Regions from separate parts of the Homo sapiens genome. Here all the other regions are linked to region 2. Evidence: fine-mapped expression QTL. Tissue or cell type: blood mononuclear cells. Region 2 holds a variant in brackets; each other region holds the start of a gene. Each region is shown on its reference strand, or each on the opposite one.

Evidence for each region. PIP is the estimated chance that this variant, and not a neighbour inherited with it, causes the effect.
Region 1: SAMD14 starts here. The variant in region 2 is fine-mapped to the expression of SAMD14 in blood mononuclear cells (TOPMed, PIP above 0.99).
Region 3: it holds the start of LINC01992, and the variant in region 2 is fine-mapped to the expression of LINC01992 in blood mononuclear cells (TOPMed, PIP above 0.99).
Region 4: it holds the start of OR2B6, and the variant in region 2 is fine-mapped to the expression of OR2B6 in blood mononuclear cells (TOPMed, PIP above 0.99).

Annotation. Positions count from the first base shown.
Region 1 is chr17:50,127,983-50,131,982 of GRCh38, reverse strand. It overlaps SAMD14 (sterile alpha motif domain containing 14), which reads left to right and starts at 1,823. Exons shown (of 10, transcript NM_001257359.2): 1 at 1,823-2,466. RefSeq lists silencers at 1,728-1,807, 2,048-2,107.
Region 2 is chr3:56,812,422-56,819,089 of GRCh38, reverse strand. It overlaps a transcript of ARHGEF3 not described here. Among named protein-coding and RNA genes, the nearest start is that of ARHGEF3, 14 kb to the right of the region's middle. The variant A/G (reference allele first, on the strand shown) is at 3,369.
Region 3 is chr17:27,987,871-27,994,538 of GRCh38, reverse strand. It overlaps LINC01992 (long intergenic non-protein coding RNA 1992), which reads left to right and starts at 2,832. Exons shown (of 5, transcript NR_146896.1): 1 at 2,832-3,146; 2 at 5,669-5,774.
Region 4 is chr6:27,953,709-27,960,376 of GRCh38, reverse strand. It overlaps OR2B6 (olfactory receptor family 2 subfamily B member 6), which reads right to left and starts at 3,136. Exons shown (of 1, transcript NM_012367.1): 1 at 2,195-3,136. The coding sequence starts at 3,136. The coding sequence ends at 2,195.

The DNA of each region.
Region 1 (4,000 bases), not on the chromosome of region 2:
GGGATGTACAGGGTCTATATAATCAAGCCCCCCACTACAGCCCACCACTCAGATCTCACCAGATGCCTACAAAGCACAACCCCTTTAAGACAGCCAGATGCAGCCCCCACAGCTGTCAACAGAAACCCCACCCCTTCCCCAGATTTCCACAATCTAGCCTCATGGCTGCCAGAAGATTCTGAAGACACCCAGAGACCCCCAAACTCCTATAAATCCCCTAGGATACCCTCAGACCCTAAAGGCTGTTAATTCTGTCCTCACTCATAGTCACAAGATTGTCCTGGTTCAACAGGCCACTTCCCGGAGGCCTCGGACTGCAGAGTCCTGTGGGCCATCAGGGAACTCTGTCCTATAGACTCCACACCTCTCCTCTGACTCTAGACCCCTGATCCAGCTTCACCACTTGCCTTTTTTTTTTTTTTTTTTTTTTTTTTTTTTTTTTTTTTTTGAGATTTGAGTTTCACTCTGTTGGCCAGGCTGAAAGGCAGTGGCACAATCTCAGCTCACTCCAACCTCCACCTCCCAGGTTCAAGCAATTCTCATGCCTCAGCCTCCAGAGTAGCGCCACCATGCCTGACTAATTTTTGTATTTTTAGTAGAGACAAGGGTTTCACCATGTTGGCCAGGCTGGTCTCGAACTCCTGACCTCATGTAATCCACCCACCTTGGCCTCCCAAAGTGCTGGGATTACAGTCGTGAGCCACTGCGCCTGGCCTTTCACCACTTGCTCTTGAGCAAAGCACTTTCCTTCTTCTAAGTCTCTGTTTTCTCTGAGGCAGTGGGTAATGGAAACACCCACCTTGTGGGTTTATTGTGAGGGTGACAATAGATGATCTGAGAGCGCCTGGCACCTGCCAAGCTGTGACGTGCGGTAGCTGGTTGTGGATCCCTACATTGCCTCCCTGGCTGGCCTGCCACTACCATCAGCGCACTGGGTCCAAGTCTGATCTCATCCGTCCCCACCCCCACCTGCTCCAGGGCTTCCTGCCTCAAGCCAAGGTCCACAGCCATCCTAGACCCCTCCTCCCTCACCTCCTAGTCCAGCAGGTCCCCAAATCCTGTCAGCTTCTTCGGTGTCAGCTTCTTCAGGCCTGCATCCTGAAGGGCTCTCAGCTTAATCTGTAATCTTTATGCCCACTGCCACCGGCCCTCAATAGCCTCCAGCGGGTCTCCCTGCCTTCAGAGTGCCCTCTGTAACCCTGTCTCCAGGGGAGCCAAGGGTGCTTCCTAAATGCACACCTGAGCCCCTCCCTCCTCTTAATTTTGTGTGTGTGCGCGCGCGCGCGTGTGTGTGTGTGTGTGTGTGTGTGTGTGGGCGGCGGGGTGGGCGGCTGGTAGAATAAAGTGCAAGCCCCCTGCACCTCCCCAGCTTCAATTTATCTTCCCCTCTTGCCCTCCCACCCCCAACACCCCCTGGCACTTCCCTACCCTGGCCCGCAGTTGTAGCCAACACATCACATCCTCTGGGAATCCCCCAGCCCAGCTCCCGCCGCGGCCGCCTGGACCCAGGCCGGGCCAGGGGTGCGCTCTCCCTTCCGGCAAGAAGTGCCCTCTGTTAGCTGGGCCCATGGCGCCCAGGCTCGTGAGGGCCTCCCCACTCGTCTGAGCCCCCGACTGGCCCACTGGCCTTGAGCGCAGTTAGGGGGCGGGGGTTCTGTTCACCGCTGTCCCCTCCAGCCTCGGCGCCCCGGCTGCTCGGCGGACGTTTGTTGAATGAATGAACTAATCGGGAGCCCTGATGGACCCGGCAGAGGAGGCGGAAGCCCCGTGGGTCCCGTGGCGGGACCGCCCCGGAGCCGCTCCCACCCGCGCAGACTCCGGTGCGCCGCGTCTCCCGCGGGCAGAGAAGTAGCTGCAACTCCGCTCCCCGGCCCCAGCCGCCTCCTCCCCGCCGCCCTCCCCCGCCCCCGCCCCCTCGCTCCCTCCCGCTCTTTGTCTCCTGGGCGCCCGGCTTCTCCGCCACGCGCCCCCCACCCCGACGCCCCTTCCCCGGAGACCCCCGCGGACCCCTGCCGACGCGACGCCGCGCGAATCGGCCCTGCCAGGCGGGGGCCCCGCGTCCGGCCAGGCCTGGCGGGCGGCAGGGGCGGGGAGGGAGGTGGCGCTCGCTCTTCGCTCTTCTCTCTCTCTCTCTCTCTGTCACACACACACACACGCACACGCACACGCACACACACACGGAGCATCCTCCCGTCAGGTCTCCTGGTCCAGCCCCGCCCGCGCCTCCTGCTTCCAGCGAACCTGTTCCCTCTCCCCACATCCCCCGCCCTCCATCTCCCCCGGCTCTGGGACCCTTCCCGCCGACCTCACCCCCACCCCCGGGATGGAGCGGCTCGAGCCCGCCCGGAGCCCCCCGCGGCCGGGGTGACGGTCCCCCCACCCCTCTCCTGCCCGGCCCCCGCCTCGAGCACCATGGGCCTGAGGGGTTCCCGGGGCGCCAGACGCTGAAGATGACCGATGCCGGAGGTGAGGGGCCGGGCGCCCTGGGGTGGACCGGGAACTGGGGCTAGGGCCACTCGGGCCCGCGGTGGGACCCTGAGTGGGGTTGGGCAGGGCTAAGCGACAAGGGCCTTTCTTCCCCTATCCCTAGGGGGACCGCACGGGGCTGGGGTGCCGGGCTGTCAGGGGAGGGGGCGGAGATAGGATTTATGGCCCTAATCCCCTCCCTCCCGCCCGACGCCCGGAGAAATTAATAAAAAGCTGGTGTGGGGGGAGGGGGAGAGGGCTTAACTCTTTCTTGCCCGGCGGGGAGTTGTGCTGATGGTTTGGAGAGAAACTAGCCACCGGGCTCTGACTGGGGAGAAGGGCTCTGAGAGTGGAGTAGGTGCCCTGTCCCCAACCTCACCCCATCTCCAACAGTGCTTTGAGGGGGTGCCCGACTCCTGAGGACTACCCCAAGCCTGGGGCCAGTGGACGGCCGGCGATATGGGAAGGGGGGACCACCTCTCTGGCTCCACAACTGCCTCCCCGACCGCTAGTCTCCTTTCCCATCCACCTCTTCCCGGCCTCTCCCAGTTGCACTTCTCTCTGTCGCTTTCTCCTCTTCAGGGGCCCTTTCCTATCGCCTGCCCGAAGGGCTTCTCCCTTCTCTCCCACCCTCGGGCGTCACTTAGAGCGGCGGAAGCCCTTGTTCCCAGTGCCAGTTCCCGTGGCCCCACTCTCGGTGTGATCTCTTTCTTCTCAGCAGCCCTGTGGACTCTCCGCCAGTTTGTGTGTCTGTCTCTGCTTCTTCCTACTCCTCACTTCCTTCCGCTCCCGCTCCCGCTCCCTCCCCAGGAATTGTGCGCCCTTTCTTCCTTTCTCCTTCTCCTGGGTCCCAAGAGGCTGTGAGCTCACCTGCCTCCCTTTCTCCCAGAGAAGGGTCAAAGGTCATTGGTGCTCCTTCTCCAGGATTGGAAGCCTTGGGGGGAAGGGTATCCAGAGGAACCGGTTCAATCCCACCCTTGTGCAGTTACCTGGCTGAATGGGGGTGTGTGTGTGTGTGTGTGTGTGTGTGTGTGAGAGAGTGTGCGGGGTGTGTGTGGGAGTGAGAGTGGGGGCGGGTTTGGTGTCTAATTTTTCTAGGCTCAGTTTTGGAAGGAGAGGGTTGGGTGGGAGGGGTCTGGTGACCCCCTGGACACAATGTAGGGAGGGTCCCCCTACACACCCCAGAAAGTTAGTTGTTGAAGGGAAGAAAAGAGAGCAGTTTGTGCTGAATCAGGATGGACCGAGAATGGCTTTGAGCAGGAAACCCCAATCCAGCCCAGAGGGTGCCTGGAAGAGGAGGACTCCAGCCAGCAGAGGATCTCGACCCTGGAATGGGCTCTTGAATAAAGAACACAGGATCTTCATTCTCAGAGGCAGAAAGGAGACAACACTACTGCCCTCAGAGAGCCTCCATTCTGATGGGAGAGGCAGTTCCTGTCTTCACAGTCCCTAGTCTGACGGAAGAATACGTGGACCCTTTCTTCTCTGGGCTCCCATCTGATTGGTGGGGGGGAGATGAGACCTATTTAAGGAA
Region 2 (6,668 bases):
CTTCTCTTAAGTCCTGTTTTTAGAATACAAGTATAAAAAAATTCTTTAAGTTTATTGTTGCTGTCAGTATCTCTAGATGGAGACTTTGGCAGCTCAGACAGAGGATGTAGCATACTGTCACCTTTCCTGGGAAGAAAGGACTTCTGCTGTTTGAATGAAATAGTTTTTTTCGTTACCTTCTTTCCTCTCTCTTTATTCTTTCTTGTGGGAGCACTTTATCCTTTGAGCTCCAAAAACAAAGCTGGAAACCCATGAAACAATATTTGCCACGACCCTGGGCAAAGATACAAATGAAAACAAGCAGAATTCTTTATCAGCCAGACAGTTCACCTTTGTTCATATTCCAAGCGCGTAGGATGGCAGCAGGGGGTGCAGGGGGAGGTTTACCTGTGGTTATCCTGCTGAAAGAGGTATGCTCATTCTCACGAAAAAGAATTGATCTTGAGACTGAAAATGGCTTATGGCAGGGTGGGTGGCTGAGAACAAAAGCAATTGTTAGCATTTTTGAGATATTCATACATCTTGAGCAGCAGCTCAACTTCTATCAGTTTGATCCAGGTCTTTTTTCCTTTGAATTCAGTTCTATCAGCATCTATAGAGTGCTTGCTGTATGCAATACTAGTCATTTCAAGAGGAGGAATTTAGCTTCCTTTCCCATTATCTCCACCAGCCCCCTCACTCCAGAAGCACCTCAAATAAGCTTACCAGCTAAGCATGTACACTGTAGTCGCTGTGCAAACATAGCTTTGAGATGGCCACCCTGCCACCTCCCACATGACTCCCTGAAGTCCTTTTCTTCTTTGTCCTCTCCTGTCACATAAAATTCAGAATTTTCAGGAGAATTTCAGAATTTTCAGTAGAGTTTCAGAATTTTCAAGATAGAAGGGAACTGAGGGTCACCCAGTTCTGTTTGGTAACAAATGTGTTCCACTTCTTCCCCTAGCCAGAGTCCCAGGACAGAGGGTTAGCTCATTATGTCTTTGGCTCCTCTTTTATCCCTAACCTCTCGGGTATAAAATGTAAGTGATTAATGTTCCACAAGACTTGGACTGAAAAACTTTAATCCAGTACATTCTGTTTGATCAAAACAGGGTCCAGGAAAGTTAAATGACTTGTCCATAGCTGCCACAGTCTGTGGGTAAACAGGGACCAAAACCCAAGGCCACTTGATCCCCCATGCGTGGCCTTCCTATAAAGCCACTTGCCCATGGTGTGGACATGATTGCCCTGTGGGTACGGGGCATGCTGGGGCCAATGACACGCTATCTTTGGGGAAGGGTGTAGCTTTGTGGTTAAGACCATCAACGTTCTGGCAGACTAAGTAAGTTCTGGCATGGCTATTTAGTAGCTGTGTGATCTTGAGCAAGTTACTTATCTTCTCTGAGCCTCCATGCCCTCATTTATACAACAGGGCAGTACCCTCTTCAGCAGGTTGTGAGGATTCAGTAAGGTAATATATGTCACATGCTTGTCACAGGTCTGGCATAAGGCAAATGGCACCTAACATTATTTTCTAGCTTTTCAGCACTCAGGTGTGAACTTCCCAAGTCATAATGGTTCTTTCTGTTCCAGCTGAAGTTAACTCAAACCTGTCTTTATTACTCCATTTGTTGAAAGAGAATCTGATATGGAACTTTTTGCTTGGATGATGTGCCACACATGTAGTCTACTGTTAGAAATTGTTTAAAAATCTGAGTTTCAGAGCTGTCTTTCCAACTGGTTGGTTGGTTCCTGGGTTTTGAAGAGATTCGTTCCTCCTCCAGACTTATCTCCTCGCTCTGTTTGGGACCATAATAAACCTAGCTACTGTTTATGAAATTATTACTATGTGGTAGCCCCTTAACCAGGTTTCTCTCTAATCTTCACCTCCACCCTTTGAAGTAGGTGCTATTTGGTCCTGATTGCAGATGAGGAAACTGAAGTTCTGAGAGACTGAGTAACTTGCTTGATGGTTGATATTTTGGTGGTTCTCCCTCGTGGAAGGTGGAAGAGCACACTGTGCTCTGTAGTTTTCTGGATGTGAGATTATGTCTAGGGTGACTCTAGCACTTGGGGTTGACACCTGACAAGGACTTGAGTGAGCATCCAACCCCCTGATTGATCAGCAGGGGAAGCTGGTGAGCAAAAACGTCACAGGACTGGACCCAAGTCAGCACTGCTTCTCATTCAGTGTTCTTTCAGTCATATCATATAGGCTCAAATCCTTGACCCTTGCATCATAGGCTCTGGCCTCAGGACTCCCTGGTTTGTGACTGGCCTGTGAATTAACGTTCCGCTTCAGAATTGGAACTTGAGGTTCTAGAAGCAAGGTGCTTGCATTTGAACTCCAGCTCTGCTGCTTACTAGCTGTGTGACTTTGGGCAAGTTGCTTGAACTCTCTGTGCCTCAGTTTCTCCTACTATAGAAGTACTCATTTCATAGGATTGTTGTAAGGATTACTTGAGATACTTCATTAAAGTCAAAGCACAGTGCCTGGCAGAGAGCAAACACCTCTTCGGCTCTCAGCATCATTTACTGAGCTCTCATCACTTGCCAGGCATCTTTTGGCAATGGGGATGTAGCCTTGTACAAGCGATTCATGATTCTTTTGGAGCGTACAATCTAGTAGGGGAAACAGATGCTAGAGAATAATGAAGATTATGATTTATTAAGTAATTCTAGTGCTATTTGTTATTTATGGGGCACTATTTAGAAGTTGCTGCAAGGTATCTTTGTTTTTAGTTCTAATTCTTATAAATGGACAACATTAATGTAAGTAAGTATTTTGGGTAAGAAGTTTGGCCAGGGTTGCACAGAACCCTCAGCTTTGAGAAGCCTGTGGTTTAGCATCTCATGCCAGCAACCATCTAGATGTGTATTTTTGTTTTGTTTTTTAGAGACAGAGTCTTGCTCTGTCACTCAGGCTGGAGTGTAGTGGTACAATCATAGCTCACTGTAACCTCCAACTCCTGGGCTCAAGCCATCCTCTTGCCTCAGCTTCTAAAGTAGTTAGGACTATAGGAATGCACCATCATGCCCTCCTAAATTTTTACATTTTGTGTACAGACAGGATCTCACTATGTTGGTCAGCCTGGTCTTGAGTTTCTGGCCTCAAGTGATCCTCTTGCCTCAGCTTCCCAAAGTACTGGGATTATAGACATCAGCCACCAAGCCCAGTCAGTCATCTGTGTTATATCCAGAACAGAATTAGGTATGGCCCTACCACTTAGATGCAAGCAGCCCACCCTTGAAGGGCAGAAGGGAAGCTGTGACTGGGCAGAATCCACAAGGCAGCAAGACTTGGTCCACTGAAGGAACAGATAGCTCTCATAGTCATAACAGGCCTGTAGGAAGAAGACAGTGTAGGAACCAAATGCTGTTGTAAAGAT[A/G]ACACAGGCACTATGTAACCGAGTACCTATTTTTAAGTGACAGTGGTATATTTTAGGCCAGTTCTATCCCATTTGTAGTCTGTCTCCATTTTCCCTCAGTAATTCTTTTCTCATAGTTGATCTTTCCTCTGTTTCAACCTCTTGTTTGCTTTGCCATTTGATATTAAAAGAATCTATATGCATATGCATTTCTTGACAAATGAGTACATTGAGCTTAATTTTCTGATGAGCCTTCATAAAATATTACCATGCTGAACCAACCCAAAATGTGGGCTGCCTATACCAAACATGCTAATTTTAGACAGGGTGCTTTCATCAGTACATAAGATATGAATTTTTATTTGAAAGCTTTCCTGAAATTAAATAGCATAAAATCAAGATAATACTCCATATACACTTCAGTCTTTGCTGTTTAATAGAATCACAGAAGCATACACATTTATGTTTAAATCACCTTGTTATATGGTTCAAGAATCTATGTCTCAGAGAGATCACTTGACTTGCCCAAGACCACAGACTTAATGGTAGGGCCAGATTGTATACCATGTCTTCTTTTTTTTTTTTTTTTAATTTTTTTAGAGGTGGGGTCTCGCTCTGTTGCCCAAGCTGGAATGCAGTGGCACGATCATAGCTCACTGCAGCCTCAAACTCTTAGGCTCAAGCAATCACCCTGCCTCAGCCTCCTGAGTAGCTGTCACCATAGGCATATGCCACTGTGCCTGGCTAATTGTTATAATAATAATTGTTATTATTATTGTAGAGATGAGGTCTTACTTTGTGGCCCAGGCTAGTCTCAGACTCCTGGGCTCTAGTGATCCTCCCACCTTGGCCTCCCAAAGTGTTGGGATTATAGGTGTAAGCCACTGCACCTGGCCCATGTCTTCTAATTTAGGTCAGTTCACTCTTCACTCTGCTGCTTCTTTTATATATGTGCAACAGTCATATCCTTTTTTGAAATTATAAGATTAAATCAAAGAATTAATGTCTTTGGAAGCAAGGAGTGTTGGAAAAGTTCTCCAAATTCCACCTTTTTTCCTTAATTCATTTAAAAAAAAAGGGAGAAGGATGATTTATTTACCGGAAGGGTTAATAATAGCATGACGTGCTAACTGTATGCTTAGAAATCTGACATACATATTATCTTATTGGATTATTCATGTGTTTTTAACTCATTAAAACCTTGAAACTCTCATATCCCCATTTTATAGATGCTTAAACTGATGTTTGTCATCATTAAGTAAACTGTCCAAAGTCATATAGTTGGCAAGTGAAAACTTGGTATTTGAACCCAGGCTTCTCATTCTAAAGCAGAGGTGTCCAATCTTTTGGCTTCCGTGGGCCACAGTGGAAGAAGAATTGTCTTGGGCCACACATAAAATACACTAACACTAACAATAGCTGATGAGCTTAAAAAAAATCGCAAAAAAAAGTCTCATAACGTTTTACGAAAGTTTACAAATTTATGTTGGGCCACATTCAAAGCCATCCTGGGATGCATGCAGCCTGTGGGCCATGGGTTGGAAAAGCTTGTTCTAGAGCTTGTATTCTATGTTCTTCCAGAAAGAAGGACAGAGTGTTGAGTATTCCACAAAGAAAATTTTGCTGTAAAGGCAGAGTGGGAGGGAAATATCTTATTCTTTTTCAGTTTACTAGCTCTTCACTTTATAATTTAACCTTCCATATTAAAAGCTTCTCTAGGAAGTGAGAATTAATTTGGGGGAAGGAAGCCTCAATTATTCCTGCTTCCAGCTGGTACAGATGCTTGGCCACTTCAGGACAGGTAGGAGGGAGAATGTTGGCATCTGTCTACTGAGCTCAGAAACTGGAGAAGCATCTAAATTCAGGAATGATGCCAGGTGGGGTGGGGGTGTGGGAGGGAGGAAAAGGATGTGGTGTTTGGGGCCCATAACTCAGGAAACGTGATGGCACCTAATTTCAGAGTGGCATGAGGCAAGCATTTAGGAAAAGAATAGTGAACTATTGTTACAGGTTTTTTTTAAATGGGTGGGTTGTTTTTATAAAGTTTTATGAACAGGAAACTGAAGCAAAATGCTGATCCTTTTAGTTTTTGAGCTCTGCCAGCATCATTTTTATATTTATTTTTGAATTTTGATGACAGGCACTTCCTTTAACACTTCTGGGAGTAAAGTGTAACAAGATACCCCAAACTGCATTTCATAACAGCAGAATCCAAATGAAGAGTTGTAGTTTCAGATCTTTTCGATAACACGGTGAGACAGAACTGGATCCCTCCCCAGCCAGGGGAGAAAGAGAACTCTTTCAGTAACTGAGGCAGTCTGCAGAATTTTTTCCCTTTCAAAACATTCTAGAAAATTTGCCTAACATGTGGAAAACCTCTAACATGCATTAAAATGGGATAGACTGTGGCAAAGAAAATACAGATCAAATTCTCCTCCTCCCATGAATCATAAAAACCCAGCCTTCCCAGCTATTGTTTCTCCTGGAAGATGACTTCATCTTAAAGAAAGTGGTTCTATCTGTTGTGTGTTTTGGATGCACTAAACCAATGTTTCAGGCATCTGGCTGCCAACTTTGGAGATGTTAAAAGCCTGTTTTGTTCCTGCAGGGCACTCTTTCATTGCCTACCTTATAAAAGTTATGTCTTATTGCATTTTCCTGGCACCAGAGCAATCCTTGTACCTACCCATTGCATTTGGTTTTTCTGAGCCTGCAGGCAGCACTGGGTTATTAAAGTTCAAGGAGGAATCCACATGATGTTGGCTTTACAATTTTAATTCTCTCTTACCTTCTTTCCTCCCTACCTCCCACTCAATGACAGATGAGCTTTGTTCACCATGTATTGTCTCTAAACCAGAATGAGCTCTCAAAATTATCTCTTGTAAGGCTCTAGGAGGGGAGAACATGACTCCCCTTTGGTGGAGCAGCTAGCAGAGAAGTTTCCTTCTTCCTTTGGCTTCTTTGAATAAAAAGTTCTTGAGTCTATAATTTATCATCAGCCTTGAACTTCAGATAAGCACCATGTTTAATCTTGCAGAAACATCAGGCAAAATCTGCCCCCTCCCTTAAAAGTCAGCCCCTTGGGGCCCACCTCAAGAAAACAGAGTTTTGATACAAATGGCATTAGGTGTGAGCATGGCAAGTTAAGAGGAAAAAAACATTTTTGTAGAGTTTAACCTGGAATCAAAAACCTAGAGAAGGGAATGAAAGAAATAACCTTTAAAGGGAAGGAAAAGGGCAGATGAGCATGTTGCACAGTGTCTTTGAAAATAAGCTATTTGATGTCCCTTTGTCACTAGTTTCAGCCTTCCTGGCAAGTCC
Region 3 (6,668 bases), not on the chromosome of region 2:
CTCAGCCTACCAAGTAGCTGGAACTATAGGCATGAACCACTATATCCTGGCTAATTAAAACATTTGTTTTTGTAGAGACAGAGTCTTGCTATATTGCCCAGGCTGGTCTTGAACTCCTGGCCTAAGCAATCCTCTCACCTTGGACTTCCAAAGTGTGGGGATTACAGGTGTGAGCCACCATGCTCAGCCATGATCTCTTATTCTTGACATCCTGAGATGCAAGTACTGGGCCAAGGCTTTAAATGGCTTTTCCTGCAGTGGGATTACCAAGTCCCGACCACCCTGCAACCCCTGCTCTGGCAATGATCTCCATCTCCTGTTATTTGTGCTCTTGTGTAATTTCCTTCCACTAAGTGACTAATGATTCACTTCTGGCAAATAAAATGCAGTATTCATGATAGAACGGCACTTCTGAGATAGGTTATAAAAAGACTGTGGTTTGCACCCTGGGTGTGCTCTCTCTTGCTGTCTTTCCTGAATCACATGTGGTAGAGGAAGCAAGTTGCCATACTGTGAGTGGTCTTTTGGAGAGGCCTATGTGGTGTGACGAGGAACTAAGATCTTTAGCCTCATAACTCATAAGGAACTGACGCCTGATGACAACCACGTGAGCAAGCTTGGGATTGGAGCTTTCAGCTCTAGTTGAGTCTTCAGATGAGTCCATGTTCCTGGCCAACAGCTTGATGGCAGCCTCTTCAGAGAACTTGAGCCAGAGGCATCCAGCTAAGACTCATTCATATTCCTGCCCCGTAGAAACTGGGAGATAATAACGTTTTTTGTTTTAAACTATTAAACTTTGGGGTAATTTGTTATACAGAGATAGATAATACAGTATCTTTGCTGCCTGGACTTTAACTTAGTCCTCTCCTTCCTGGAGGTGTCTCCAAGGGCCCACTCAGCCTGGTGATGATAATTGGAACTGGGAGACTACAGTGTGTTGAGGGGCGCTGCAGTTAGGGGAGTATGGCTGGAGGAGCAGAAAGTAATTCTATGAAGAATGACCTCATCCTTCAGAGAATGGCTGTGGAGGAACACAGGACTGGAGAATAAAGCCTCTCTGTCATGCAAGTCCAGCTGGGCTGGGCAAGGTCTCGGTGCCAAGCTGGGCTGAAAGTGTTAAAGACTATGGACTTCCCCTTGGCAAGATTGGGGCTCCCATTAAGTCACTAGGAAGAAGATGAAAAGTGAGAGGGAATTGGGGCAACAGTACGGAGACTGGAAGCTATAGTTAGTGTCCAAAGGATCAGGCTCTGCTACTTACTGGCTCAATGACCTTGAACAAGTTGTTTAAGTTCTTTGAACCAAACATTTAAAGTGAGTATTGTAATAATATCCACTTTGAAGGGCCATTTTAAAGATTAAATGGGATGATTTAGATAGAGCTTTGAGCAGAATGCAGAATAGTTGATATTACTATTATTCCTGGAAGGGATCCAAGTTGGAAGTTTTGCCTTCAATGTTTCTGCTGTGATCTGGGTGGGTGGAAGGGGCCAGCAGGGCCCCCCCAGTAGGTCTGTGGAGGGCAATTTGGTGAGCCCCTCTCAAAAGCAAATGCATAAATAAAAGGCCAGTGGAGATACCAGAGACCACCTCAAAAGGGAATTGGAACATCAGAAGATTCGTATGAAAAAGGCTTGTAGTCTACAAAACATGGGTAAACCTTCAAATATAGCTCAACCCTCATTTGACATAGAGAAACTCTTATCGACAGCTTACTCCAATAAGTCAATGGACAAAAATGGGCAAAGGGTCTCATCTGGAAGCCATGACTCATGGTTCTCCAGAGAACTCGTACAGGAGCAGAACCCAGGAGGGTGAATTCACACCTCATCGATGTCAGTAATTTCACACTGAGGAGAAGGTATCAGTGTAATGAGTTGGAAAACAAGACAATATTAGAAGAGAAGTGATGCTTCAGAAATGAGATGAAAGTTTTTGTAGAAAAGATCACAGAAAAGTCCATGATTATAAAGGATAGCCTTGATTGATCACAGTTGGGTGGAAGATTTAAGAGGATGAAAAAATTGAGTAATAAAAACATATATGAACACTTCCCAAGGTTTGCAAGGGTTATGTTTCTGAGTCTGGTGTATTTCAAAAATTGTACATGTGTTGACATTGTGTATGTGAATCTAACATAATTCTGAAGATGATTATTGTATGCAGGACCCTACAGAGAATATGATATAATAGGGCTACCTGTATATGATCAGTCCCTAAAGTTTTTGAAACATTAGTAGGTAAAAGCAGGATAAGTGCTCATTTAAAATTTATGGGCCCGTGTGGTTGCTCATGCCTGTAATCCCTGCACTTTGGGAGGCCAAGGCAGGAGGATTGCTTGAACCCAGGAGTTCGAGACCAGCCTGAACAACATGGCAAAACCCCGTCTCTACTAAAGATACAAAACTTAGCCGGGCATGGTGGCACATGCCTGTAGTCCCAGCTACTCAGGAGGCTGAGGAGGGAGGATCACTGGAGCCTGGAAGGTTGAGGCTGCAATGAGAAGGTTGAGCCTGGGTGACAGAGTGAGACCCTGTCTCAAAAAATAAAACAATAATAAAATAAGATAAAATAAAATTTACAGATCATTTTCTGAATCTAAATTTACAGACCTTAATTTACCTTTGGAGGAGACTGCTGCTTTAAGAAAAAAAATCTCAGAATGGCCCTTTTGTTATCCAGAAGTAAAACATTGTACTCATTGTTCTTGATGGAAATTGTGACATCATTGTTAAACTGACTATAGATATTGGTAATGTAAATTGTGACTTTGCAAAGCTACTATTTACTGAGCATTTCCCATAAGGTCAAAAGAACCACTTGGAACACTCATTCAGCATACAGATTCTGAGCCCCTCCCTGAAGATCTGATTCACTAGGCTTGGTGTAAAGTCCTGGAACCCATAGATTTAACAGGAGCCCTCCACTGGCATATATTATGGGAAATAGTTTGGGAAGTAGTGCTTTACATGATTTATGTCAAGTAATTATTACAATTGCTCTCTGAAGCCGCTACCATGATTATCTCAATTTTACAGATGAAGAAACCAGCTCAGAGTATAAGATATGGTATACCTAAGTCAAATAGTTAATAAACAGGAGCGCTGCTGACTCTGGCACCCAGGACTGCTTGTCTTCAAAGCCAGGTAGGTGCAAAACCATTTTACTGTTCTGGTTGGTAGGCATGGTTGATCAACAGCTGCATAGGTTAGCTGGCTGGCTATTTCCACATACGCCCTCACTGGGTTAGGGCATGGGAAGTTGCTTGCAGGGAGTGAGGCATAGAGGGGAAGAATGGGAGGTCTGAAGTCTTCTTGGTGAGATAATTTATGGACTCCGAGCTCAAACAGTGCTGCTTTGGGGCCCAGGAGACAAAATGTGACACCGACATAGATCTGGGGCTCTAGATAGTGGTGATATTGAGAGCATCAGGAGATGGTACCCTCCGAAGATCACTGGTGATTTCAGAAGGGGCATCTAAGAATCTCCCTCCGATGCTACCAGGGCTGTGACATGGGACAGGGCACCTGAAATAGGAGAGGGAGAATATGATGGATGTTGTGTGGTGATTGTAAATAAGTGGGTTGTTTTAAGAGCATATAAGATATGCCCTTGGGGACTGCTCCAAATAACTGGGAAATGCCTTTTGTAAGGAAGGTTGGATGAGGTGGGAGCCCAAGTCATTGTCATGTGGACAATAAAAGTAAATGGGACCCCATTTTATATCCACAGACCTTGACACTTAGATTACATAGTTGGATTTTTGATGTGTCTAGACCTCATTATGTTTCTTAAGGACGGGTGCTGTAATACAGTGTCTAGCCCAGGGGGAGAGACGCAATAAAGATCTTGTGTTGAATAGAGAAAATTTGAGCTGTAGCTCCCCTCTTTCACTAACTGTTTGTGTTAGGCCGTTTTTTGCATTGCTATAAAGAAATACCTGAGACTGGGTAATTTTTAAAGAAAAGAGGTTTCATTGGCTCACAGTTCTGCAGGCTTCATGGGAAGCATGGTGCTGGGATCTCCTTGGCTTCTGGGAAGGTCTCAGGGAGCTTACAATCATGGTGGAAGCCAAAGGGGGAGCAGGAGCAAGAGAGGGAGAGTGGCAAGGGTGGTGCCACACACTTTTAAATGCCCAGCTCTCACAAGAATTCACTCTCACTATCGCAAAGGCAGCACCAAGCCATGAGAGATCCACTCCCATAATCCAAACACCTCCCACCAGGCCCCACCTCCAGCATTGGGGATCAGAGTTCAACATGAGGATTTGGGCGGGGACAAATATCAAAACTGTATGTCTGTTCCTCAGCTTCCTCTTCCTTCCTATTCCATAGCCCAGCTTTATTTCTGGCAAAGACTAAGATGCTGAGGCTCTTGTGTTTGTTCTTCCCTTCTCACATATTGGTCATGTGGTGGGTAGGAGTTGTAGGATGGTGATTTATTGAGTGATTTGTGAGACATTGGCCTAAGAACTCAAATACAAATGCACACCCATGCCACTATCTCATTTAATCCTCACCTCCACCCTGTGAAGAAAATGTTATCCATACATGATAATGAGGGCTCCCCTACCCAGAGCATGAAGGTATGGAAAATAAAGTTTCCATTTGAGAACGAGACTCTTTAGATTTTACACAATGGGTGAGAACAGCCACTTACAGTGAAATAAAAATCAGTCTGTGAAGATGTGACTTAAGAGTTTGAGACTCCCTCCCCGCTACCTCCAGTGCCATTCAAGGTGACCAGGGAGACATTCCCAAAAGGAGTGTAATTACAAAGTGGAAACCAAGCAATTTGCTTTCCATTCTTTTGGGAAAGGCAGGGAGAACAGAAGGCAAGTGGTTGGCCTGGTAGGATGGAAAAGGAAACCCAAAGAACTTGGTGATGCCCAAACACTGAAGAGAACACAGGGAGGCTAACCAAATAGAGACCTACCTTTCTGTGGCAATGCTGTGGAAGGATGGTGAGAGGCCCACAAGCCACTTAGACAGGGGACCCTGATTAAGATCAATAAAGCAAGTCATAGACTCTTATTCCAAGCTTCACAAGCAAGACACTTCCATAGGTCCCTGGGATGCCAAGCCTCTGGGTGGGAGATACTCCCTGAGCCATTGTACCCATCAAGTCTGCTCCCTGGCCTTCTGGGATTTATGCTCCAGTTCTTGTGCTCTTGGACACTCTAACTCCTGAGACGTGAACCATCCATATGCCAATAAATCAGGTCTGGGAGCTTCTCAGGCCATGCACAGATTCTGGACTGTGGTGAGTTGATGAAAGGAAATGCCTGTCTGGTGAGCCACCTGGCCTTCCTTAGGAACACCCCTCTGAATCTTTGGGCCCAGAGCATACCTTTTGCACAAGAGAAAGTGTCACTCCCTCCATTCTGGCAGCCAAACAAACACAGATTTTAAACACTTGGCCAAGGTCACTCAAGCAAAACCCTTTTTCCTCTGTTCCCGAAGCCCATACACGTATCTCCTCCCCAACTGTCCTTCCAGAGATTTACCTTCTGTTTCTCCCCCTTTCTCTCCACTCCTTCCTCCCGGGCCCTTCTCTATTGTCCCACAGCCTTGTGGTGGCACTCCAGCAGTTTTCCACAGGGAAATCCTCTTCTGGGCCAAGGCTGCATCGCGGGAGCCTTTGAGCTCTTGCTTCTGTCTCATTACAGGACTCCGACTACTGAAGGCCCAAGACTCTTGGCGGTCTGAATCTGGGGTCCCAGCTGCCTTGCCAGGATGGCAGATATCTCTCCACTAATGCAGGTGTCTTAGAAGGTAGGCCTTGTTGCTTCAGAAAGCAGTGGGTGTTAGAGGCTAAAATGGCAGACTGTCTCTCATGGGCCGTTCAGGTGAGCAGACTGCTCGAGAGAGGCCTTGGGTCAGTGCTCTTGTCTGAGAGGGGCCTTTGGAGACAGTGGCCTGGAGGCCTCTGACCTGGCTTGGGGAGAATGAGGGAACCAAATTCCAAGAGCAAGCTGAACATGCCTCAAGTGATGCTGTGGCTTCAGGTTTTTCCTTCATTATCCCATTTCCTCCTCACAACAACCCCTCTCCTGAGGACCTTATATCTCAGAAGAGGCAGCAAACTTGCCCAAGGCCACCCAGCTAGAAAGTGGCTGAGTAGGGGGCAGAACCCAGGTCTGTCTGATTCTCACGCTGCCCTGGCGTGGAACTCCCTGTGGTGTGGGGGTGTGATGCGTCCTCCTGGGTTGGAAGCACAGGAGCAGCATGGTGCTTCTAGACAGACCGAAGCCTATCAACCACCCTGGTGGACCATCTGTGTTAGGAAGACCAGTCTTAGGCACAAGCCTGGCCCATGGAAGACAAGCCACTTATGCTAGTGTCCTTGTCATTCCACCACAGGCACCAGAAACTACCAACAGAACTGATTATTATTACTGTTATTTTTACAAAGAGGCTGCTATCTTAGACCAGCAAGGAGAATTCGTATCCCCTTCTGCCCAGTGCAAAGTGCTGGGTGACTTGGCTTCTTTTTTTCTTTTTTTTGAGACAGGGTCTTGCTCTGTCACCCAGGCTGGAATGCAGTGGCACAATCACGGCTCACTGCAGCTTCAACCTCTCGAGTTCAAGCAATTCTCCCACCTTAGCCTTCCAGATAGCCGGAACTACAGGCGTGTACACCATGCCCAGCTAATTTTTTATTTTTTG
Region 4 (6,668 bases), not on the chromosome of region 2:
AATTACTGTATGATCTAGCAATTCCACTTTTGGGTATATACCCTAAATAACTGAAAGCAGGAATTCAGACAGATATTTATACACCGATATTCATGGCAGCATTATTCAACATAGCCAAAAGGTGAAAGCAACTCAAGTACCTATCAACTGATGAATAGATAAACCAAATGTGGTATATACATACAATAGAATATTATTCAGTCTTAAAAAGGGAAGAAATTCTGACACATGCTACAACATGGATGAACCTTAAAGACATTATGCTAAGTGAAATAACCCACAAAGCAAAAACACTCTATGATTTCATTCATATGAGGTATCTAGAGTATTCAAAATCATAGATGGAAAATAGAATAGTGGTTACCAGAGGCTGGTGGGGACAGAATATGGAATATGGGTAGTTATTGTTTAATGGGTACAGAGTTTTAGTTTCAGGAGATGAAAAAATTCTGGAGATTGACGCTCAATGTGAATGCACTTAATGCCACTGGCTGTACACTTAAAAATGGTTAAACTAGCAAATTTTATGTATATTTTACTACAAGTATAAAAAAAATCCAAAATACATTCTCCTTAAAATACAAACCACTTAAAAACTTAAAAGTGGTTTGTATTAGAAAAATAAATTTCTCAGAATTGCAAAAAAGGAGAGATAGTTTAATATGTCTTGTTCTATATGAATAATTAATATATTTTTTATATTCTCAAGGTAACTGATAATAGCTTAGTTACAGAAGTTACCAGTATAAAATTATACACCAGCACACCAATATAAATACTAGTTAAAAACCAAATCTACAATTATAAAATTAATTAAATCAATTAACCTCTCAATTTAAAAATTAACTATTTCAATTTCTGGAATTCTGTTTTCTCTTCTATGTCCTCATAATTCACCAAACTACACTGACATTGGCTTTGAGATACACATTTGTCTCCAGTAATCTGATCTGTCATTTATTTGGACCTTTAGCAATGAATTAATTTTCAGTGAGAAAATTATTGTCTTAAGCTTTAAATATACTTTATCAGTATTTTGCTTCCATGTATGTTTTTTATGATAATTATCCCTATTAGGAGAGAAAACTGAAGTCAGAACTTGGCAAACCAGATTTATTTCTCTGTTAACATTTTATTATGGCAAAAGTACATGGAGTTACTGTAGGTTTTCATAAGAAACATGATAAATATATTTTAAGCTATTGTATTTTCTACATGTATAATGCATTAGTAGAAGAAAACAATGGATAAAGAAGGGTAGCAAGGTTGTTAAATTATTATAATGTAAATGAATCACTCAACAATCAAAAGAATCAACTAATAATGTAAATGCATGCTACTTCCTCAGCACTATGATGACTTCTAAAGGTGTTGTGGTAAAATGTATGGTATAGTTTTTGTACCCTCAAGAATAAAATATAATTAGACTATTATTATGCAAGACAAAAGTACTAAACAAGAACTCTTTGGAAATCATTACATAATGTGCTATTTTGGAATCTAAGCTGTTAAGTGCTTTAGGGTTTAAGAGAACGGTAGATAATATTGATAGTTGGGAGAATTATGAAAAAAAATTCATGTAAAAGAAAATTAGCTGGACCTAATAAATATCTAGGGTTTGATTTGCAAAGGAAGTAAAAAGAATGCCTTCATTTAGTAGGAAAAACATGAGTACAGAAATATGGTAAGAAAATGGAAAATCTGGTTACAATTTTAGAATAAAAATTATTATAGATTTCCTTATGCTGATGCGGGAGTGGAAAATTTAAAATTAGAATTGTTAACCTCAGATCCAAATTTGAAGTGGTGGGGTTTGAGAGTTTCAGTGAGCCTCGTTTAACTAGTGTGTGTGTGTGTGTGTGTGTGTGTGTGTGTGTGTGATATTGGAGAAAGAACTTCTGGCTTTTCTACGGATCTAATTTACATTGAATTGTACAAGCATTGATGGGATGTTTGACAAACCTTGAAGATGTTGTGATTACAATTTTTGGTGAATTGGAAGGTCAATTCTGGGGGCTTGTTCAATGAAAACATTAAGGCAACAGAAGTAAATATAGCTCTTCATCAAGGAAATTTTATTTGAGGGAGTTTACATTGTTCTCTACAGTAACAACAAAAATAGGGCAACTTACAGAGAAGTTAGTAAGCTAAGTAAACATTTTGTCTTTAGCAAAGCTTATCATTTGCATATTTCTTATTTCTTGATTAAGAAGACTCTTGCAACCAACCTTTTAAAGCCTTCCTTTACCTCCTTGTTCCTAAGTGTATATATAAGGGGATTCAGCATGGGTGCAATGATTCCATAGAAGAGAGAAACCATCTTTCCTTGGTCCTTGGAGCTGGGCGAAGGTGGTTGCAGGTACACAGAGACGGCTGTACTATAAAAAAGAGACACCACAATTAGATGGGAACCACATGTCCCAAATGCTTTTTGTCGACCTTCAGCAGACTGTATCCTCAATACTGCTCGGACAATAAAAGCATATGATATAAGGATGAGTGTCAGGGGTATTAGATGGAAGAGCTCACTGACAAGGAATAGTTCAGCCTCATTTGCTGTTGTCTCAACACAAGATAACTTGAGCAGTGCAGGGACTTCACAGAGAAAGTGATCTATCACATAGGGGTCACAGAGTGGCAGCTGGAGAGTCAGGGTAGACAACCACACTGAGTTACTAAAACCAGTAACCCAGGATGCAGCTGCCAACTGGAGGCAGAGTCTCTGGTGCATGATAACTGAGTAATGGAGAGGCCGACAAATAGCTACAAACCTATCAAAGGACATGACGGCCAGGAGAAGATATTCAGTAGCCCCCAAGGCCAGAAATATGAAAAGCTGGGCTACACAGCCACGATAACTGATTACTTTCCTGATGCTGCATAAATTTACTAGCATTTGTGGGACTGTACATGTGGTGTAACAAAGATCCAGGAGTGATAGATTGGTAAGAAAAAAATACATGGGGGTATGAAGTTTGGTGTCCAGGCGTGACACTAGAATAATGGTCAGATTGCCAAAGATGGTCACAGTGTAAGAAATCAAGAAGACCACAAGGAGTGGAAACTCCAGCCAAGGTCGATCTGAGAAACCCAGCAGAATAAACTCCTGTATGATGCTGTCATTTACCCAATTCATGATTAATGTTTCAACTCTTGGTTTCCTGAAACAGAAAAATTCAGGAAGTCAATTAACACATATTTGTTAACTATTTCAGTTACTTATAGTCATTTTACTACCTGTTTGAAGATATTTACAGAATTGATATTGCTTGTTTTATTACATGAAAAATATACAGTTGAAAATGCTCATAATTACCAAAGTATTTCTAAAATTTAATCTTTCTATATCTGTATCATCACTGCAAAAGTGAAAGCTAAAATGTAAAAAGTAGATTCCTGATTTTAAACAACTTTCACAAAATTTCTTCTTTGATTTTTTGTCATTTGGTTAATTTTTGTAATACTGTCCACATAGATAGCTATTATTAGATTCGGTCATAATCTCTAACACATTTTTTTCACTCTAATTTCTCAATGTTAAGGAAACTGCCTTGTCATCTGAAACAAACAATTTGTTAGTTTCTTAAATTTTTTTTTATTTCAATAGGTTTTTGGGGAACAGGAGGTGTTTGGTTACATGAATAAGTTCTCTAGTGGTGATTTCTGAGATTTTGGTGCACCCACCACCTGAGCAGTGAACACTGTACCCAATGTGTAGTCTTTTATCCTTCAGCTCCCTCCTTCCCTTTCCCCCCAGTCCCCAAAGTCCATTGTGTCATTCCTCATAGCTTAGTTCCCACTTATGAATGGGAACATACGATGTGAAACAATTAAAATTATTTAGACCGCCTCAAAAACTATGCATATAGGCTGTAGCAAGCTATTAGACACATCTCAGGGAAACATCTTTTGCCTTCTAAGACCTTATCAAATTAGAATAAAAAGATATTAGTAGCATGGAATTTGGAGGCAGACAAGTCTGGGTCCATGTCCCTACTACATAAGTCATTAGTTACATCCTCCTGGGAATGTTTCTTACTCTTTGTGAGCTTCAAGCTCCTCACCTATAAAATGAGTATAATAATACCTTCCTGGGATAGTGGTACAAAGTGTAGACAAAAGGAACTGTAGTCATCTTCTGATGCTCAGAGAAAAATTATGTATGATTTTCAGAACTTTAAATGTCCTGGGGTTGCCAATAAAAAATGACTCTGTGAGGTAATATTTATCTTGTTCTCTCCACAACTCCAATACCATCAACTTTAACAACAGAGATAATAATAACTATCTGATGTGAAGTATAAATGTGATCTTTAATGTAAATTACCTGGTATAATGGCACACAGCAATGTGAATGAAAGTATCATATGACACAGGAACTCTGAGACATTCGGGGCAGAGGCTGTTCAGAGCCCTAAATTTGCTAAGTACTAATATAAGTCAATGCTACCAGTTAAAAATTTCCAAATCATCTATCTTGCTACCACCACCCTCTATTGTTTTATTATAATTTTGTTAGTGTAAAAATGTCAATTTAAGGATAGGATCATAAATTTTAAACTATTATTCAATATGTATTTCAATTTTGCTCACTTATTCTACAGTTCTCAGTATAAAATGGCAGGGAAAGCTTTTATAGCCTCTCAAATGAGTCCCTGCATATTATTGACAGCTGCATATTATTGACATGCTATGCAGCTGTCAATAAAATTAGGAATGTGGTATAGATATAAATTCAGATATAGATATACATGTACAAAAACATTCAAATCCTTAAGGAAAAAAACAAGTTTCTGAACATGTATTTAGCATGCTTCCATGTGTTTACATAAGGGAATATAATCATATTGGTCAGTATTCATATATGTATAAAATTACCTGGAAGTATACAGAAGTGTTAAAAGCTGTTACTTCTGGGGAATGGAAATGGAAAGAGGGAGAAAAATCAGATTTTGATATTTAACTTTATCCTTGCTTTTTCTAATTTTTAACAAATATAATGCTTTTTATTATTAATAAAGATTATTATGTATTATATAATAACTTTAAGTGAGGACATATTCATACTGTATGTTTTACTATAAAGACAAGCATTGCTTTAGACTTTATAACTGAAACAATCTTATATGAATTTAGACTTTTATCTCAACAAATTTTTAAAACAGGATCTACATTAATCTACATGGACATTTTCTAAAGACTGGAATGCAAGGGCATTGGGCATTCGGCATCTTATTGACAAAAAAAAATCAAAAAGAGTTGCCACTCATTATAGGAATTCTGAAAAGCAGAACAAATGGAATCCATAAAAAGAGATTTCACAAGTTCACAATTTCCTTGAATTAACAAGTGTTGGAAAATACCCTCAGTCTATATAATTAGGGTCACTGCATATCTCAGTTTGCACAGGACTGCGAGTTTACTCCTGCTGTTCTGACACAATTACTAATAGAACCCTTCAGTCTTCAAAAGAGTTCATGTTTGGGTGATAAGTTATAAGGTCTCTCTAGCTGTAATATTGGAGACTAAAATAATTTTCAAATTATTGTTCAAGAGATACCTCATCACTGAGGACACTGCATATGCTTTCTCCTTACTTGGGCCAGTGGCTTTCCCTGACCAGCCCTGTATCTGGCATTTCTCTGCTAGAATACAGCCAAAAACAAACTCTCCAAGAAGCCCTGACTAATGAAAATTCTAGAAGGGAGGAATTCAATTAACTTCTACTCTTTCTCACTGAGGTTCAGCAATTACAAAAGTATTAAATGCACTTCTGTTATAGGTAATGTCCATGATCCACAGCAGTGAGGGAAATTTTGCCCCAAATTTCTCCTGCATGAGAACAAAAGTACTGGGGAGACTGTAGTACAACTCATTCTTATATTCTGCTTTGCTAACTTTTGGGGCAAAATTTCCCCATCTTTCAAATATCCAGTAACCTCTTTACATATCCACTCTAAAAGAGAGAACTTTTGTTAAAAAGTTGAAAAATTGTCTGGGTGTGGTGGCTCACGCCTGTAATCCCAGCATTTTGGAAGGCTGAAGTGGGTGGATCACCTGAGGTCAGGAGTTCAAGACCAGCCTGGCCAACATGGTGAAACCCCTTCACTACTAAAAATACAAAAATTAGCTGGGCATGGTAGCACACACCTATAATCCCAGCTACTCAGGAGGCTGAGGCATGAGAATCACTTGAACCTGAGAGATGGAGGTTGCAGTGAGCTGAGATAGTGCCACTGCACTCCAGCCTGGGCAACAGAGTGAGACTCCATCTCAAAAAAAAAAAAAAAAGTTGAAATATTATCTTGCACACAGAAGTTTCAAGTAATTTGAATTGTTATTCTTATCACTATCATTGGATTGGAAGGACTTGTTAACAATGGAAACAAGTAGGAATCTTGTATCTCTGAAATCCTCGCAGATAGCATAACCAATTATTTACCTGATTACACCTGTGCTGATGGTGGTGCCCAGTCATGGCTGAGATCGCAAAAGGCTACACAATCTATTTCTCTGGTCCTGAATAGAATTCTGTTTACAGCATCTTCAGAGGATATCATTCTCATTTTGAGTTAACGAGCTTTCCTTTGGTCAACATAGGAACATATTTTCATAATGTGAGACAAAAGGGATCAGATTGCATAGCAACTATCTTACAACTGCAGGTA